Linked DNA regions of Homo sapiens: region 2 is linked to region 1. Evidence: fine-mapped expression QTL. A gene starts in region 1. The other region holds a variant in brackets. All regions are shown on one strand. Distances are from middle to middle. Region 1 holds the start of TNFSF13B (TNF superfamily member 13b). Region 2 overlaps LOC105370355 (a long non-coding RNA gene).

Evidence for each region.
Region 2: its variant is fine-mapped to the expression of TNFSF13B in whole blood (TOPMed, PIP above 0.99).

What each region holds. Positions count from the first base shown.
Region 1 is chr13:108,267,876-108,270,797 of GRCh38, reverse strand. TNFSF13B (TNF superfamily member 13b) reads right to left here and starts at 1,080. Exons shown (of 6, transcript NM_006573.5): 1 at 564-1,080; 2 at 374-458. The coding sequence starts at 902. RefSeq lists a silencer at 175-254 and enhancers at 155-663, 615-1,044.
Region 2 is chr13:108,337,020-108,339,941 of GRCh38, reverse strand. All of the region lies in intron 2 of LOC105370355 (a long non-coding RNA gene), which reads right to left. Among named protein-coding and RNA genes, the nearest start is that of TNFSF13B, 69 kb to the right of the region's middle. The variant T/C (reference allele first, on the strand shown) is at 1,286.

The sequences.
Region 1 (2,922 bases):
AACATGTAATGCTTTTTTTTATTTTTCTGGAGTGATGAATAATGCTTCTCACATGGGAGGGCATTATCTACCTGAGGAAACACATATGGCCCTTTTATCTCCTCTATGCTTAATGCACAGATAAATACTTACACACGCACAGAGAAATGCTTCCAGTCACACGATCTGCTCATTGGAGGAAAAAGCACACCCATGCAGCCTGTTACATTTGCCAGCGCTGGGGCTTTGCTCTAAAGCAATGTCTGCTTTGGATGGCAAATTTCATAGTCTCTATTTAATAGGTTCATAGAGGGGATACTCACCTCCAGCTCCCCCAGACTGGATGTTATTCTCTAATCCCTGACTCCTAAAAGTGTCTGTGCCCAAAACATACCTGTTTCTTCTGGACCCTGAACGGCACGCTTATTTCTGCTGTTCTGACTGGAGTTGCCTTCTCCTGGAGCTGGTGGTTCAAAGATCTATGAACAGAAAAACTTCAAGTTATTAGAAAGACAGCTGAGGCGAGGGAGAGGCAGCAGTGTAGGCAGGATCTTGCCTGCGTCTTGCAGCTGCTGCAAACTCACTTTCAGTCCCGCGGTGACAGCTGGAGCTTCCTCCAGGCCGGCCTTGGGGGCTCCTGCTCCTGCTGGCAGCTTCTCCGCGTGGTGGCCCTGCAGCTCTGCCCGGAGGCTGGCCAGGTCCCCTTGCAGGGCGGCCACCTGGTAGAAAGACACCACCGTGAGGCAGCAAGACAGCAGTGCCAGCAGCAAGGTTGCAGCCAGCAGCTTTCCGTCTTTGGAGGATCGGACAGAGGGGCTTTCCTTCCGTGGGAGGATGGAAACACACTCCTTCAGTTTCATTTCTTCTCTTTTCTTAAGGCAAGAAGTAAGGCGTGACTGCTCCCTTTCTGTGGAGTCATCCATATCACTACTTGAACTTTGAAGGTTGGGGCCTTTAGAATAAGTGACCACAGGGAATGGATCATTTCCTGTTATCTGTGTTTGTTGATGTCCTGCGTGCACTACATGGCAGGGCTTGGCTCACCCCTCAGGAGAGTTATCCTGAATTTTCTCCTTTCTGCCTTTCTGCATCTCTACCCCTACTGTACAGTAGGTTTGCTGGCATTTACCCTCCGATTGGATTGCTCAATCTGTCTTCCTCATTTCACTTTCAGTTTTTGTAAGAATTTCAAAGTCTTCTCATAACACTCATGCTCAAGTAGATTTAAAACCCCTTAAATCTGCTGAGGAAACTTGGAGTTTGGATTGGCACAGTCAAGGGAAAGCTTTTAAGATATGCTCAGGTCTGAGAAGCCCACCCTTAAGTGTAGCAAGGGAACTCTGTCTGCTTGGGACCACATGGCTTCATAAGGAAGGGGGAAAAGCAGCTGAAAGTTCCTGCTGCTGTCATAAAAATAATTAATGTGAAGGTCAGATAAGCTAAGTGTTTTAGCATTGAATTGTTCTTAGCTAGAGAGTGATTTATTAACAGTCTTCAATTATGAAATAAAATGGAGAATCCTTGAAGGAAGTGTGGAAGTAAGTCCACTGGGAATTATTCATATTATTATACTAATAATGTCATAAAAAGAATGAGAGTAAATGTTACAGACGTATTTAGGTTAGATATCTGAAGGATTCTCTAAATATAAGTGAATATATTTTTAAGGAAAACATGCATAAACTTTTTCCTTCTGGGACTCATCACTGAAACTCAATCATGCATATGAACAGCCTGTCCCAAGGAGCCTGGTCTCAGCTTTTCTGCTCAGACTTCTGAGGCTTTAAGTCCCCGCTCAATATGATACTAGTTGAGGAGAATCAGCCTTGCCTCCAGCTCCAAATGCCTGACTGCTACCATTAACCACTCTCAAGTAGCTTGTCTACAACTCCCATGTTGACTGTGCCACAGCCTAACAGGTCGGTGTACAAGAGGTCCTTGATCACACAAGAGCCACCTTAGCTTTGGATTTTTCTGTTGTTGACTTGGTGGACCTGTGAGGACTGTTGCATTCATTCTAGTCCTGCCTTATCCTGATGGCTGGTTCCTGGACATTCCCCAGTTTTTCACTGCTTTGCCCCAGCATTGAAATATTGATTCATCTTTCAACAAACGTTACTGAGCACTTACCAAGCCCTGGGTAGTCACTACTCCCCTGTGGACTAAGAATAGTGAGCTTTAGTTCTGTCTCACTCTACATTTCCACACAGTCTTAAGTAAGAAGTTTACAGAAATGATATAGTGCAAAGTGGAGAACTCCAGACCCAGGCTTCTAGACTGCAAATCCTGCCTCACCCTCGCTCTCCTTATGCAAAGTACATAATCTCTCTGTGATTCCATTTCCTCACCTGTGAATTCGTATGACGATATTAACTGTCCCTGGGATACATAATGAGGCTTACAAGAATGTGGAAACAAATTACATTTTGGATGCTTCCATTTAAAAAAAAATTATTTCCACAGGTTTTTGGGGAATAGGTGGTATTTGATTACATGGTTAAGTTATTTAGTGGTGATTTGTGAGATTTTGGTGCACCCATCACCCGAGCAGTGTACACATTGAACCCATTTTTTAGTCTTTTATTCCTCACCCCCCTCCCACCCTTTCCCCTGAGTCCCTAAAGTCCATTAGATCATTCCTATGTCTTTGCATCTTTGTAATTTAGCTCCCACTGTGAGTTAGAACATACAATGTTTGGTTTTCCATTCCTGAGTTACTTCACTTAGAATAATTGTCTCCAATCCCATCCAGGCTGATGCGAACATCATTAATTCATTCCTTTTTATGGGTGAGTAGTATTCCATCATATATATGTATCATAGTTTCTTTATCCACTCATTGATTGACGGGCATTTGGGCTGGTTCTATATTTTTGCAGTTGTGAATTGTGCTGCCATAAACATGTGTGTGCAAGTATGTTTTTCGTATAACAACTTCTTTTC
Region 2 (2,922 bases), 69 kb before region 1:
TATTCTACCTTCAGAACTTTTTGAATTTGCACCCGAGTAAGTCTTTCATACATACTACTTACCAAAGTACACAAAAGGATGGAGAATTGGTTTTATGTCTGTATGCAGATTGCAATACTCGTCTTTGCAGTGCACCTCCTGGTAGACAGTTTGCTGGGGCAGGGGTGGGCTGCCTACCTCTAATTGTTAGTAACTACTGAAGTGCGTAAAAAATGATATGACACATGTGAGTTGCCAATTTCATTTAGGCCCATTTCCAGCAGATGTATATCTATCTCAGGAAAGGTTTAATTTATTAAGTGATGAAGTAAATGATTGGATATGCCAATACAAAATACTGAAGCGCTCTTCAAAATCTAAGAGAGTGAGCAAAGCTTAAATGTTTTTTACAATTATGCTAATCATAAATAAATCAAAAAATACATATACAGAGAGAAATAAAGATGGTTTCACAAATTTTAAATCTACCAACAACTAGCAATGAAAATCTAAAAAGACAAAATGATACGGCTTTTACAATTATACTTAAATTAGTATTATAACTTAAATGATCCTCATACCTTCATTATTTCTTTTTGTATACATGTAATAGTTACATACAAAAGCATCTACAGTTTTGGTATGTGGATTTATATATTTCAGTAATTATATAAAATTTTGTTAGCTGGTATGAACTGAAAACTCAGTTTCTTGGGCAGCAGTTCTGGTCTCAGTCCAGATATTTTGTCCTTAGCTGATATACTTTGAGTTTATTCTTCCTATGCATGTTTCGGGGGTCAGTCAGAGCTGTGGGTACGTTGATTTTGGACATCCATTCTTGGGTTGTTTCCTTTGAGAATTTCCTAGTTTCTTCAATAGCTCTTTTCTGGTTTCTTATTTATCTAGCAGAAAGATGCTAGATTTTTTTCACATGTGCCCCACAACCCCCAAAGAAAAATTACCTAGGGAGTTTCTTTTTCAAAAAAATTGTATAGATTTAGGAAATATGTCCAAGTTCAGTTTTGTTACACGGATATATTGAAGTCTGAGCTTGGAGAGTACTCATCACCCCAATAGTGAACATTGCACCCAACAGGTAATTTTCCAGCCTCAGCCCCCCTGCCACCCTCCCACATAACTTAAGGAGTTTCTACCTCCCCTTCTCTGAGCAAGCCTGCTCTCCCCTGGGGATTTGTCTGCTTCTCTTCACCCTCCAGGGCATCCTGGTTGCGGCTTTTGTTCATGTCCAGCTTTTGTAGTTATTATCACTTATTTTATTCTGAAGCTTTGTCTGGTAGAGATCTAG[T/C]CGATTTTAGTAGACACTTAATATTGACTTCTGTAAGCAGAAGTTCTCCAACTCTCATTCTGACAGGCAACTCTCATCCTTATCATACATCTCCAAAGGAAAAAATATATAAACTATAGATGGGGGAAAAAAAGCAAAGTGCATGTGCCCCAAGCTTCTTAATTAAAACATGTAGCCAATTACATTACTTCATTAATTAGTCATGTTCTATGATGTTTGAATCCAAGAACCGGCATGGGAGAAATAATTGTACTTATTAAATTCATACAGGCATGGTATTAGAAAATAAGTCTTACATTTTAAACAGAAGACACAATCTCTCACAATGACTACTCATGAGAAATGAAAAAATAGCACCTTTACATCAAACTTTTTGTTATCTGAATTGTAACTTATGTGGAGTATTTACTAAGCTTATTGACAAGCTCTTTTGAACCACTGTGTTGACACAATGAGAATTATGGATATAGGAAACAACATAGAATGCACAACAAATTCTTTGTGGCCATTTCAACTCTCTCTGTTTACTTGAGATGTGAAAATTATTTTACCCTCTAGATAAGACCTTAGCTAATGTGTAATGTAAGTGCCTTCATCTATTTACAAACTAGCATCACATATAGAAAGAAATTGGTGTAGGGCAAGAAAGTAGGAATTTCACACCTTTTTGGATTTTCTTGTTAGAGTTTATGATGGGCTTTATTTAATTTTCTCAATCAAGAAACATGAACTGATCTCTTCTGTAAGTAAAACACTGTGCTAAGGAATGAGGACAGAAAAGTGAACGAGACAGAAATAGCCTTTACCCTGATCAGCACCTGTCTAGTGACAGAGGCAGACGCATCGGCAAAATAATTGCCTGACCACTGTGGGCAGGAAGCGAACTCCGTGTTTTATCAGCTTGTCTCTCATTTGCACACCAACCCTCCTATAAATTAGCATCCCTGTTTCACAGATCAGGAAACTGAGACCCAGGAAATTTAAGCACTTGCTCAAGTATGCAGATCTAAAATGAGCGCAGTTGGAATTCAAACCAGTTTCCTTGGACTCTAGCTCCCACGCTGCTGTCAGGATAGAAAGCTGCTCTTCAAGCACATAAGATACACCGAATATGTAAAAGTAAAGCCCTGTGCCATTTCAGAGGAAGGGTTAAGGGACTCCAATTAGAGAGATGTGCAAAATCTTCATGGCCAAGAAAGTAATTTCCTATATAAGCAAAAATACTGGTGTCCAATTGAAATTAATCAAAATCAAATACAAATTATTCCACCCCAACTGCCATTTTAGATACATATACATGCTTCTCCGCAATTATAAATTCATAGCTGGTAAGTTCAAAGAAAAGTGTGTGGGTGAAGATTTACAGAAAGCTTTTTCTAGTTAAAGTGTAAAATGTGGATGGTCCTTAAAATATCAAATATTCCCTGATTCATCACATTGTTTTGGTCTGGTGCATTAATTTAAAAGAAAATGATGATTTGAGACTTTAAGATAAATAAAATAACACAATCATTAAAGTTATAATATTTCTAGATAATAGTAATCTAATCATTAAAATTCTACCATTTCCATGGTTTTTTATTAATACAATTCACAATACAGATGAATTCGTTTACTCCTGGTGATGCATGGCTACT